Linked DNA regions of Homo sapiens. Changing the gene in region 1 together with any one later gene gives a genetic interaction. Each region holds a gene or a part of one and is shown in the gene's direction. Other genes may lie near its edges. The genes, in order: RAB18 and EIPR1.

What was found.
Region 2: changes in RAB18 (region 1) and EIPR1 are lethal when combined (synthetic lethality), as found in Homo sapiens cells (one study listed by BioGRID).

What each region holds. Positions count from the first base shown.
Region 1 is NC_000010.11:27,521,079-27,528,371, forward strand, and holds part of RAB18 (ras-related protein Rab-18), read left to right. Parts: intron 1-5,749; coding exon 5,750-5,811; intron 5,812-7,293. UniProt on the Homo sapiens protein: The small GTPases Rab are key regulators of intracellular membrane trafficking, from the formation of transport vesicles to their fusion with membranes.
Region 2 is NC_000002.12:3,188,439-3,193,080, reverse strand, and holds the end of EIPR1 (EARP and GARP complex-interacting protein 1), read left to right. Parts: intron 1-499; coding exon 500-667; intron 668-3,572; coding exon 3,573-3,747; 3' UTR 3,748-4,111; downstream 4,112-4,642. UniProt on the Homo sapiens protein: Acts as a component of endosomal retrieval machinery that is involved in protein transport from early endosomes to either recycling endosomes or the trans-Golgi network.

The sequences.
Region 1 (7,293 bases):
TTCACGTATTTGTGAATTTGCCAGTATTCCTTCTGTTATTAATTTCTAGGTTTATTCCATTGTAATCAGAAAAATGGTTTGCATGATTTCGGTTTTTTAATATGTATTAAGACTTGTTTTGTAGCCAACATATGGCCTATCCTGGAGAATGTTTCATGTATACTTGAAAAAAATTTGTTGTTATACGGAGTATTCTGTTGGCTCTAATTGGCCTTCAAACCCTTTGTTTTCTGTTGATAATATATCTCAGTACACTATTCATAATTGGAAGTGGTGTATTAAAATCTCCGACTGTTTATCCTGTGAAAAAGACACTTTCACATGCATGTTTATAGCAGCACAATTCACAATTGCAAAAATATGGAACCAGCCCAAATGCCCATCAATCAATGAGTAGATAAAATGTGGCATATGCATACCATGGAATACCACTCAGCCATAAAAAGGAACAAAATAATGACATTTGCAGCAAACTGGCTGGAACTGGAGATCATTATTCTAAGTGAAGTAACTCAGGAATGGAAAACCAAACATTGTATGTTCTCATTTATAAGTGATAGCTAAGCTATGAAGACACAAAGGCATAAGAATGATACAGTGGAACTTGGGGACTCGGGGAAGGGTGGGAGAGGGATGAGGGATTTAAAAAACTACACATTGGGTACAGTGCACACTGCCCGGTTGATGGGTGCACCAAAATCTCGGAAATTACCCTAAAGAACTTATCCATGTAACCACATACCACCTCTTCCTAAAAACCTATTGAAATAAAAAAAAAATAGGATAAAGTATATGGGAGGATTTAAAAAAAAAACAAGAGGGTGATGTGCTCTGGTTCTGCAGGGAGAGGAAGGGGAGACGCATGGAAGCTCCGTGTTTGGGACCCTCCCAGACCTCATCCTTATGTGTTTCTCTTTTTGGTTGGTCCTGATATTGTATCCTTTGTAATGAAACTGTAATTGTAAAAATCTAAATAAAATGTAATTTGTGGGGAAAAAAAAGACGTTTTGGAATTCAGTCAGGCAATAAAAATAATCAGTATTTTCAGTGGAGGGCTTGTGTTTAGGAAAATAAATAAATAAATAAATAGAATCTCTGATGGTTGTAACACTATTTTTCCATTTAATTCTATCAAGTGTTTGCTTTGTATATATTGGACTTCTGTTCTGTGGTGTATATGTTTATAATTGTTGTATCTTCTTGAGAATTGGCCTTTTTATCAAAATATTTTGTTTTAGTCTCCTAACAGTTTTTGACTTAAAGTCTATTTTGTCTGATTTTAGAATAATTACCTTTGCTATCTTTTGGTTACTATTTGTATGGAATATCTTTTCCTGTCCTTTCACTCTCAACCTATATTTGTTTCTAGACCAAAAGTGAATCTCTGATAGAAAGCATGTAGTTGAATTTTTAAAAAGTATTCTGCCAATCTTTTGATAGGAGAGTTTATTCTATTTGCATTTAATATACCAATAAGGAAGGACTTCTGCCATTTTGCTATTTATTTCCTTAAAGAGTTTTTGTTCCTGAATTCTTACCATTACTGCCTTCTTATCTGTTTAGGGATTTTTCATAATAATATGCTTTGACTCTCTTCACATTTCCTTTTTTATCTATATTCTATATATATTTTCTTTGTGATCTATTTCAGTAAATTCTGGTAGCTTTTAATCTTTCAAGGAAATTGTCCATTTTTATCTGAATTGTCAAATTTATTGGCATAAACTTGTTCATAACATTCTGTCATTCCTTTAACTTCTGTACAATCTATAAATGGTGTGATTTTTTTCATCCTTTGTAATGATTTTTTTTGTCTTCTTTTTCCTGATCAATTTGACTAGAAGTTTATCAGTTTTATTGGTTTTCTTTTAGAAGCAACTTTTGGATTCATTGATTTTTGTTGTTGTTTTTCTGTTTTTAATTTCTGGTTTGAACTTTATTTTCTTTCTTCTACTTCTTCGGATTTAATTTGCTGCTTTTTCTATTGTCTTAGTTTAGAAGCCTAGGTCATTGATTTTAGATCACTTGTCTTTTCTAATATGGGTGTTTAGTGCTATAAATGTTCCTATTAAGTATTGCTTAAGTGGCATCATACAAATTTTGATGTTGTTTTTCTTTTTGTTTAAAATATTTAATTTAAAATACTTAGAACAATTTCATTATGATGTCTCCGAGTTTTTCTTCTTCTTTTTTTTTTTTTTTTTTTTTTTGCTAGGGGCTTATTGAGCTTTTTTGATCTGTGGATTTATATTTTTCATCAAATTTGAAATTTTTCAGCCATTATTTCTCAGATATATTTTCCCCCCTTCTCTCTTCTTTTTCCTCAACTCCATTGTTTGCATAATAGGCTGCTTGAAGTTGTCCCACAGATGATTGATGGTCTCTCATTTTCTTTGAACCTTTTCTTTCTGCTTCCTTTTGGGTAGTTTCTGTTGCTGTGTCATCACATTCACTGATGTTTTCTTCTGCAGCGCCTAATTTGCTGTTAATCCCATCCAGTGTATTTTTCATCTCAGACATTGCCATTTTTACCTTTTTTTTTTTTTTTTTTTGAGACAGGGTCTTGCTCTGTTATCCAGGCTGGGCTGCAGTAGCACAACCACGGCACATTTCAGCCTCGACCTTTCAGGCTCGATCCATCCTTGTACCTCAGCCTCCTGAGAAGCTGGGACTACAGGCGCAAGCCACCATGCCTGGCTAATTTTAAAAGTTTATTTTTGGCTGGGTGCGGTGGCTCACGCCTATAATCGCAGCACTTTGGGAGGCCGAGGCGGGCGGATCACGAGGTCAGGAGATTGAGACCATACTGGCTAACACGGTGAAACCTCGTCTTTACTAAAAATACAAAAAATTAGCCGGGCGTGGTGGCAGGCGCCTGTAGTCCCAGCAGCTTGGGAGGCTGAGGCAGCAGAATGGCATGAACCTGGGAAGCAGAGCTTGCAGTGAGCCAAGATCACTGCCACTGCACTCCAGCCTGGCCAACAGAGCAAGACTCCGTCTCAAAAAAAAAATAAAAATAAAAATTTATTTTTGTCAAGACGAAGTCTCGCTGTTTTGCTGGGGCTGGTCTTAAACTCCTGGCCTCAAGCGATCCTCCCACCTTAGCCTCTCAAAGTGTTGGAATTACAGGCGTGAGCCACTGTGCCCAGCCCATTTTCATCTTTAGAAAGTTCTGTTTGATCCTTTTTTATGTCACTCATGTCTACTTTTTGAACATGTGGTGTACAGTTGTAACATCTGTGTCAGTTCTGAGTCAGTTTCTATTGATTGATTTTTCTCCTCTTCAACAAGATGTGTGCTTCTGCTTCCATTAATATCTTCTGGTCTCCCATTCACATATATCTACTGTTGAGTTCATATTTTCTTTGGCCTTTTTCATGAAGGTTATTTTAGTTAAAACTAGATAATATAGTTAATGGAGCCTTTGAAATAAGCAGTAAGTGCAACATGAAAATTTACCAGTGTGCCTAAAAAAAGATTCTTGCAAAGAAACTGAATTAAAGATCATATTAAAAATGCAAACACAAATGAACAAGGAAAAGCTGAGATGACAGTTCTTCTGTTTCTGTTGTGAGCTCCATGTTATCCACATGAAGAGATTGAAGACACAGTTTAATCAAATTGGGTAAGAAACTGGCAAAATCAAATCTCTCAAAAAGACTCCCACTGCTGCTACCAATTAAGATAAATTATCAGCCACTTAACAAAAGAGAAGCATGATGAAGAAGCAGTTTTAGCATGTGAGATCTGAAGAGCTCAATTGCTGCATGTGAGATTCACCAGAGGAACCTAGGGAAGATGACTGGGGACTTTAGGGGTCTGGATTTAGATTAGGTGCCCCTTCAGGCTACCTGTGTCTGTTGGCTTTGATGGCAGGACGACAGTGTTCAGTGTCTCCTGTGGATGGGTATTGGTAAGTTTCAGATATAATATGTCAAAAGCATAACTTAGAGACATTGTTAGTTATCCACATGCAAATTATTCTTATGTCAGAGACAGTCATTAGACTGTTCACAACAAACTTGCAGAACCAGGAAATAATAATAGAGAAAGAGGAGTTGGGGTATGGGAAGAAAACACATACATTCTGGAAGCGGTGGGTTTCTTTTCTTGGGTAAACAAATTAGCTCATAGGAAAGATGCTTGTCTGCTCTTGAACATGTATCTGGGATTATTAAGGAAAAAAATTAGTTCTTTATATACTCCCTGAAAAACCTTGAGAATTTAACTGTAGAGTGTGCATGACAGAGGCTATCTCTGTGTAGTGTCTGCCAGTGGCTGTCATTTAGTACCTGCACCAAGTCAGAACCATTTTCCTCCTCTGAATTTTCTCAGGGTTTGTGCTTTGCTTTTTTTTTTTTAAAGCAATAGGAAGAAAATGTAGATAATTTCATGTTGTTTATGTAGATGGTTCCACTTTTAAAATGGCATAGTAACTTCTTTATTTAGACCTGGTTAATACAAGATTATTTAGCATGTGGGATTTTTTGTTTGTTTGGCTGTGAAGAAATTTTATATTTAGGTTTTTGTTGGGCTATGTAATCAACACTGTCCTTTTACTAATGGTTGCCCATCATTCTAGGCTTTATCAACTCCTTTATCACCCCAGCTCAAAACACCAAACTTAAAAATATATATATTTGGTATACAGAAAGACCTGGCATAATGCACATTTTGAATGTGCATTTTTATTACTGAATTTGTATATGTAATGGATCACCACAAGTCTTCCAAGAATTACAAATATATTTCCATATTGGTGACAGGTGTTCTATTAAGCATTTAGTATGTGAGGGTGCTGTTCATCTTAGTTGGGGCTGTTCTGAATTAATTGTGACAAGCTAATAAGATATTTTGAAAGTTTCTTTCCAAGCTTCTTGAGCTAATGTTTTCCCTCTGGCCAGTGGGGTAGACTGAACTCTTGAAAGACATGTGGGCAGTTGCTGTTCATTTAAGCCAGATGGCATGTGTCAACTCCTTTTCCTGGAAAGGGAGAGGTTTCTTTTTTGGCTGCTGTAATAAAGCCTTGTGGACTTCTTATGAAACTCTTTTCTTTACATAAATTAGTACTTATAGAAGCTTTTCATAGAACTTTGGGCACTCCTCTTTCACTTATGAAGATTCTTAGATGGTTGTATATAAATGTTTTCATGTATAAATTGTTTTATTGAAATTGTGCTGTAGCAAGTTATTGATTAGGTTATTACATAAAAATAGTATTTTTTTAGGATAAAAATAAAGAGATTATATGACAAGGAGTGAGTGGCCCTTTAATATTTTTACCGGTTCCCCAAGCTGCTTACAGTCAAGATCTGAGTTAGTGGTTGGCTGGCAGTGGACAGCACTCTTAACAGTAGCATGTGGATGCTTAGGGAGCCCCTGGAAGCTGCCATGACCCACAGTCAGCCATGGATAGTCTTCTTTATGTGAGCATTGTAATTGCAGCTCTTGACTTTTAACACGCATAGTGAGTTATCACCTTAAATTGAATTTCGTTTTTCCTTTTTGGAAGAATAGAAGGTAGGTGAGTGAGTGAATTCTACAAGCATTTGATTTTCATTTATCCTGATTAAATCCTAAGATCCTGGATTTTAATGACACTTTTTATCTCCACATCCAGAATTCTAAGAAGTTGGGGTGTGAATTGGGCATTTGATAATAGTGACTTTTCTGTTTTCTGGTTTTCTTGGTAATGGATTTTAAAAGTCTGTTTTACTGGGAGACTTATCAAAATTTTCATTTCTTTAAGGTGTTGACTTTAAGGTGAAAACAATTTCAGTGGATGGAAATAAGGCTAAACTTGCAATATGGGTAAGAGTTTTTAAAATGTATTTTTAAAATATTAAACTTTACTTTTTAAGGATGCAGAAATTGATTTGTGTAGTGTTCTAGAGGTGGTGAATGAACAATTTGTATTAAATAACTTTTGGGAGATTTGATACTGATTAAAGGATAAACAGTAATGTCTTATAATTGGGTAATTAGGCAGCTATGTTTTGTTTAAATTTTCACAATGCATAATTCTTTATGAATATTTCAAAACAGAACAGAATATTAAAAAATCATCTCATCTGCCAAAGAGAATCATAATTGGATATGTTTCTTTGAAGTTTTAAAAAGACCATCTAGACTGAACTAACACTAAAGACAATTTTTAAGGGGAGGAGGAATGACGTGATATTTAGGAAAAAATTTTATTTTTCTTGTTTGTTAGTATAGATATTTATAAAATTTGAGGTTTCAAACTTTGGGCTTATTTTTAATGCCTCGTTTTTCCTTACTGGCTTCTTTTCGTTTTCCTGTCAATCCAACCATTCTGATCCCCGTTACTGTACTAGCTAGACCGCTCATGCTAGTGTCAAATAAGGTAGCATTAACTGTCAAAAATATCCAAGATGCTTAGTGTCTATGTTTGTCTCTCTCTGTGTCTCCCTTTCATCAGTCTATTTACCCACCCACATACCGATCTATCTATATCTGTCTATCTAAATATGATCGGTTATATATATATATGTATATTCTAAATATATACTGTTTTATATATCTATTTTTCACATAGACTGTGATAATTATACATATATGTTTGTAATATAAGAAATCATATTAGAACTGATCAGTCATCAAATCGAGACTTATTTCCACATGGTGGTTAAATGGTAAATGCTGTTTGTACATCAGTCACAGATTGAAAACAGCAAGTGTTCATGCATTGTATGATGTCATATTTCTTGGCATTCTCTGAATGGCACACTGTTTCTAATACACATTTATCCCCAAATAACAAATAATTGTGTAAGTGTGTTTAATGTTTTTATGTCAGTTTTTCCTAACATACAATACTTTAAATTTGTTAACCTGTTTGCCCCTTTCCCCCAAATATGTTTAATATCAATCAGAACGGTAATGTCTAACAGAAAACAATTTGGAAAATGTTGGACTAGAGTATGGTAAAATGTGTTGAACGATATAAGAATGTTGGCTTTTTCCATACTAAAGTGGGGGCCTGATTTCCATATGCTTTTCATGGTTAATTTATTATCCCTTTCCGGCCTTGCTGCTGCTTTGTGAAATCCGTAGATTAGAGTAGTATCTGAGACTTGCTGGTTGCAGTGAGATTTTTCTCTCATAGTTTCGTTTTGTTTTAAATTTATTTTCTAGTTCCTGCCTAATAAAAAGGCTGGCAGGTATTATTGAAGAGACATTTTTACCATAGGCCTATAAACATTTTTTAAAGAAGAGAGGTTTTCCCCCTGGCTGTAAGAATAATACAGGGTCATTCTAAAAGGGATAATT
Region 2 (4,642 bases), on another chromosome or scaffold:
AAGCTCCCAGGCTCTAGGACCCACGCCAGCAAGAAAGCTGATCCCAGTAGCCAAAACCAAGGACAGCCCTTGTGCCCCGGGAGGCCGCCATGCCCTGGTCTCAGGACCCACAGTCACTGCCAACTGGGAAGATGCCGTGAGACTTGTTTGATATTACAGGATATCGCTAATCCACATGTTGCTTCTGGGACAGTATTTTTTTTTTTTTTTCGAATTTTAGAAAGCTTGTCTGAAATGTTGCGTGATAAGCCTTCTCCTCCTGTAGGTTTCAGCCAACATTTAGTCTTCCCTGTCTGTCTCTTGGGACTTAAGAGAAACCTGCAGTAAACCCAACCTCAGCGGAAAACTGCCTTATGTCAGGCCCTGTGACTGGGGGCCGATTGCCTGGCAGTGCCTAACGTGAGCCCCAGCCTAGTGGGGCCCTCAGAGCCGGTGTGATCCATTGTTGGTGTTGCCTGCGGGTGACAGTTCATTTCAGCAGCTGCCTTGCCCTTTGCAGGGTGTGGAACGTCCGCTACAACCACTCTCATGACCAGCTGGTCCTCACGGGCAGCAGTGACAGCAGAGTCATCCTTTCCAACATGGTGTCCATCTCGTCGGAGCCCTTCGGCCACTTGGTAGACGACGATGACATCAGTGACCAGGAGGACCACCGTTCTGAAGAGAAGTAAGGGCACGCACTGCAGAGTGGCTCACGCTGTACCAGAGCCTCCTGTCTGCACAGCCATCTCCCGAGCCAGGCTGTGTATGTAGAAAGTTTCCAGGAGTGCATTTGGGGGACACTCTCCTTACCCACTGCAGCTGTGGGGACTCACAGTTCCAGGGGTGCCGTCATTAGCAGCCCAGGTGGGAGGCACTGCAGGTGCGTTAGGGTTAGGTGCGGTTTTAAAATAGATCTATTTGTGTTTGTATTCTTATTGAATGCCATCTGTAAGATTTAAAAGACTCACTGGTCTTCAAACTTGAGCATGAATAATAATAGAACGAATATATCCCAATCCTCACAGCACTCCCTGTAAGAGACGCATCACAGTCAGTGTCTTCACTGGCGTGGATTTGAGCGTGTTGGGGTCGGGTTGTTGGCCATCAGCTCACGGGCCTTCCACTGGCTGGTAGCAGGGCGGAGACTCCAGGCCAACCTTCCCAGTCTCAAACCCGGGTCCTACTTCACTTCTAGATACTCTACAAAATGTGGTCAACCATGATGTGGGTTTTCTAGTCACACCATCATGGTTCTGGATTTTCCCAAAGCTTTTTCCTATGCACCTTGATTTCTGATCCTAGGTGAGATGGGAGATCGCTAAGGGCAGCCTCTTCATGCCCGCCTCTGGTCAGCGGTGCAGTGCCAGGGCCCCTGTGTCCTTGAGCAGTCCACCTTTAGAAGTGGCAGCCGCTTCCTGGGGGGTGACTAGATGCAATTCAGTTGCAACCGCAGAGATTCTTGCCCCAGGTTCCAGAGGAAGGAGGTTCTGGAATAAAACCTTGTGAAGTTGGACAGAGCCCTTAGATACGATGGGGTCTGTCACTCTGTTTTGGGATCCTTTGCACTGTTTTTTGTCTGAATTCTCCCCCTACCCACCTGAGCTTGGTCTAAAATTCCTCTGTGAGAAGACCTCTTTCTTCAGACCCTCTCTGCAGTGGCGATGGGACCATCTGATTGTCTCTGTCTTCGGACCCTCTCTGCAGTGGGGATGGGCCCATCTGATTGTCTCTGTCTTCAGACCCTCTCTGCAGTGGCGATGGGCCCATCTGATTGTCTCTGTCTTCGGACCCTCTCTGCAGTGGCGATGGGCCCATCTGATTGTCTCTGTCTTCAGACCCTCTCTGCAGTGGCGATGGGCCCATCTGATTGTCTCTGTCTTCAGACCCTCTCTGCAGTGGCGATGGGCCCATCTGATTGTCTCTGTCTTTGGACCCTTTCTGCAGTGGCGATGGGCCCATCTGTTTGTCTCTTGACTCTGTTGCCTTTGTTTTGTTTTTGAGACAAACAAAAACAAACAAAAAAGTCACCCAAGCTGGTGTGCAGTGGCACGATCATGGCTCACTGCAGCCTTGACCTCCTGGGCTCAGGTGATCCTCTCACCTCAGCCTCTCAAGTAGCTGAGACAACAGGCCCATGGCACCATGTCTGGCTAACTTTTTGTAGAGACAGAGTTTTGCCATGTTGCCCAAGCTGGTCTCAAACTCCTGAGCTCAAGTGATCTGCCCACTTCAGCCTCCCAAAGTGCTAGGATTACAGGCATGAGCCAGACTCTGTTGTTTTTCTGTTCAAACCTTAGAAACTCGGTCTGCCATAGAATAGTATTTAAGCACACGCACGGTAGCATCTGCCCAGTGGTCTCTCGGTGCCTGTGGGCCTGGCTCCCTTTACCGTCCTCTCTGCCAGTGGCCCAGGGAGTCTGCACTTCCTCACCATGTCTGTCCCTGTTAGGGGAGGAGCCTGATGGGCCCGTTGGTCGGAAGACTGCTGGCGTTGTCTTCTGGGCGGCAATGTCATGGGAGCAAGATAGGAAGGGAGGAGGTGATCGGGGCTACGCAGACTTCTTAGGACATCCCTCAGTCCTGATGTCCTGCTGCATTCAGGAAACCATGATTCCTCCTAAGGATTTGCACCTGGCATTTGTCCCACAACAGCAGTTGACCACTGGCAGGTCCACTTTGTGGGAAGCCAGCTTCCCAGAGACCATGCGAGTTCTGGAGGGTCCGTCTTGCTGGGGGGGTGAAGCATTTTCCTACAAAGAAATGCAAAAGCAGTTAGAATGCGGTACACAAATTATGTGGGAATTTTTTTGTGAAATGGGAAGTAAAGTGCCAGAGAAGCCTGTGTCCACCGGAAAGTGGCCGCTGTGAGCCGGGCAGGGCCCCCTCCCCATGCACGCTGTGCTGAGGAAGTGGTGCTTCTTGTGTGAGGATCCCCTGGTCAGGGCTCCCAGTGAGGGTAACTCACAGTCAAGGGAGGCGAGGTGGGAAACACCCTGGGGGAGGCCAGGCAGGTCACGCCTCTGCTGCTCCCACAGGGCCAGGGCGTCTTCCTCTTGGTGTCCTGGGGGATCCTCAGCCCAGCCCCACTCCCATCCTAGCAAGGCTCCTTGTGCCCCAGCCTCTGACTCCTACACAGCCAGGAGCTGGACCCGCTGCTTCCCAGGGTCCTTTCTGCTCAAGCAATAGGGGCGTTTACATCCTGTGTTACCCAGACACGGTGACTACTTCCCCCAGTCTTTCCCCTGAGCTAAAGGAAGCCCTTGGAAGACCTCCAACAAAATATCAACCCAGGCACCCGGGGGCCAAGGACAGAAGAAACCAAGACACCATGTGCCAATGTCGCCGATTTCCATAAACCTTTTGAGAAATGCCCACTCCTCACAGTGACAGTGAGGGTTTCTGGGCTTCTGCAGGGACCACCCCACCGTCCTCGGTGTGGGCTCCTCTAATTCTTCCCATCCCACAGCGGAGAAAGCTGAGGCCCCAGTACCTCCCGTGTCTCCCGATGTCAGCGCTCGCGTCCTCCCTGCCCCTCTCCTGCCCGCCCCGCCGGAGCTGCTGCGCTCACGTCTGCCTCTGTTGCATTGCAGGAGCAAGGAGCCCCTGCAGGACAACGTGATCGCCACCTACGAGGAGCACGAGGACAGCGTCTATGCCGTGGACTGGTCCTCGGCTGACCCGTGGCTGTTTGCCTCCCTGAGCTATGACGGGAGGCTCGTGATCAACAGGGTGCCCAGGGCCCTGAAGTACCACATCCTGCTATGACTCCCGGGCCTGGGTTATCCAGGTCCCATTGAGTGGTTTTCCTCTTGGCAGATTCTCAAACAGTCGCAGCTCTTTGGAGGTGACTCGTGTTCCAGGTGGATCCCTCTCTGGGAGAGCCGCTGTTCCCTTCCTGTAGCAGCAGCATTTATGAATGGGGTGAATGGGGCTATTGTCGACGGCACAGCTAATGCCCGAACCCAGCCCCTGTCGGCAGAGACAGAGCCCCACATTATTATGTGAATAACAATGTTTTCTGTTTTAAGGGTGTCAGGAGTTTCGCTTTTTAAAAAAATGTCTGTTCCTGCAATAGTAACTCTTCTTTCTCTTGAGAGTAAAAAATGAAATAAAATAAATCCACGCTGCACAGGTGCTCGGCTCATTCTTTCAGGAGCTCTGCCCTGTGACCCCATCTCCTGGGTCTTTGTCCATTTTCTCTTTCCTGACCCAGGGAAAATGCAGATGGACAGACGTGTGCTGTCTACGCCGCCCTAGCATGGAACTCCCGGGAGCCATGCTGGCTGCTGGTGGGCACCTGGCTCGCGCCCTGGGCTGAGCTGGTGTGATGCATTTTCACTGCTGTAGACGCAGGCTCTGCCCGCCCTGGGCCTCCCCTGGTCTCTGCAGCCCATCCTGTGCTGTGTCCTGCCCACCTTGTGAGCCGGGCAGGGCCTCCTCCCCACGCGCACGCACTGGTGGCCTTGGAGGTGCCGTCCTCCCTCACCTCGGAGCTTGGGGTTGGGCTCCCGCGTCTCAGTTGTCGGGGACCCCTCACAGGCTCCTACACTCATCAGTGCTTATCCTTAGGAATCCTCAAACACTGACCTCGCAGCCTCTGTTCGTGGTTCCTTTGGGTGTGCGGGGTCTGTTCTCTGTGTCTGGTGCGTGTTCCCACTGG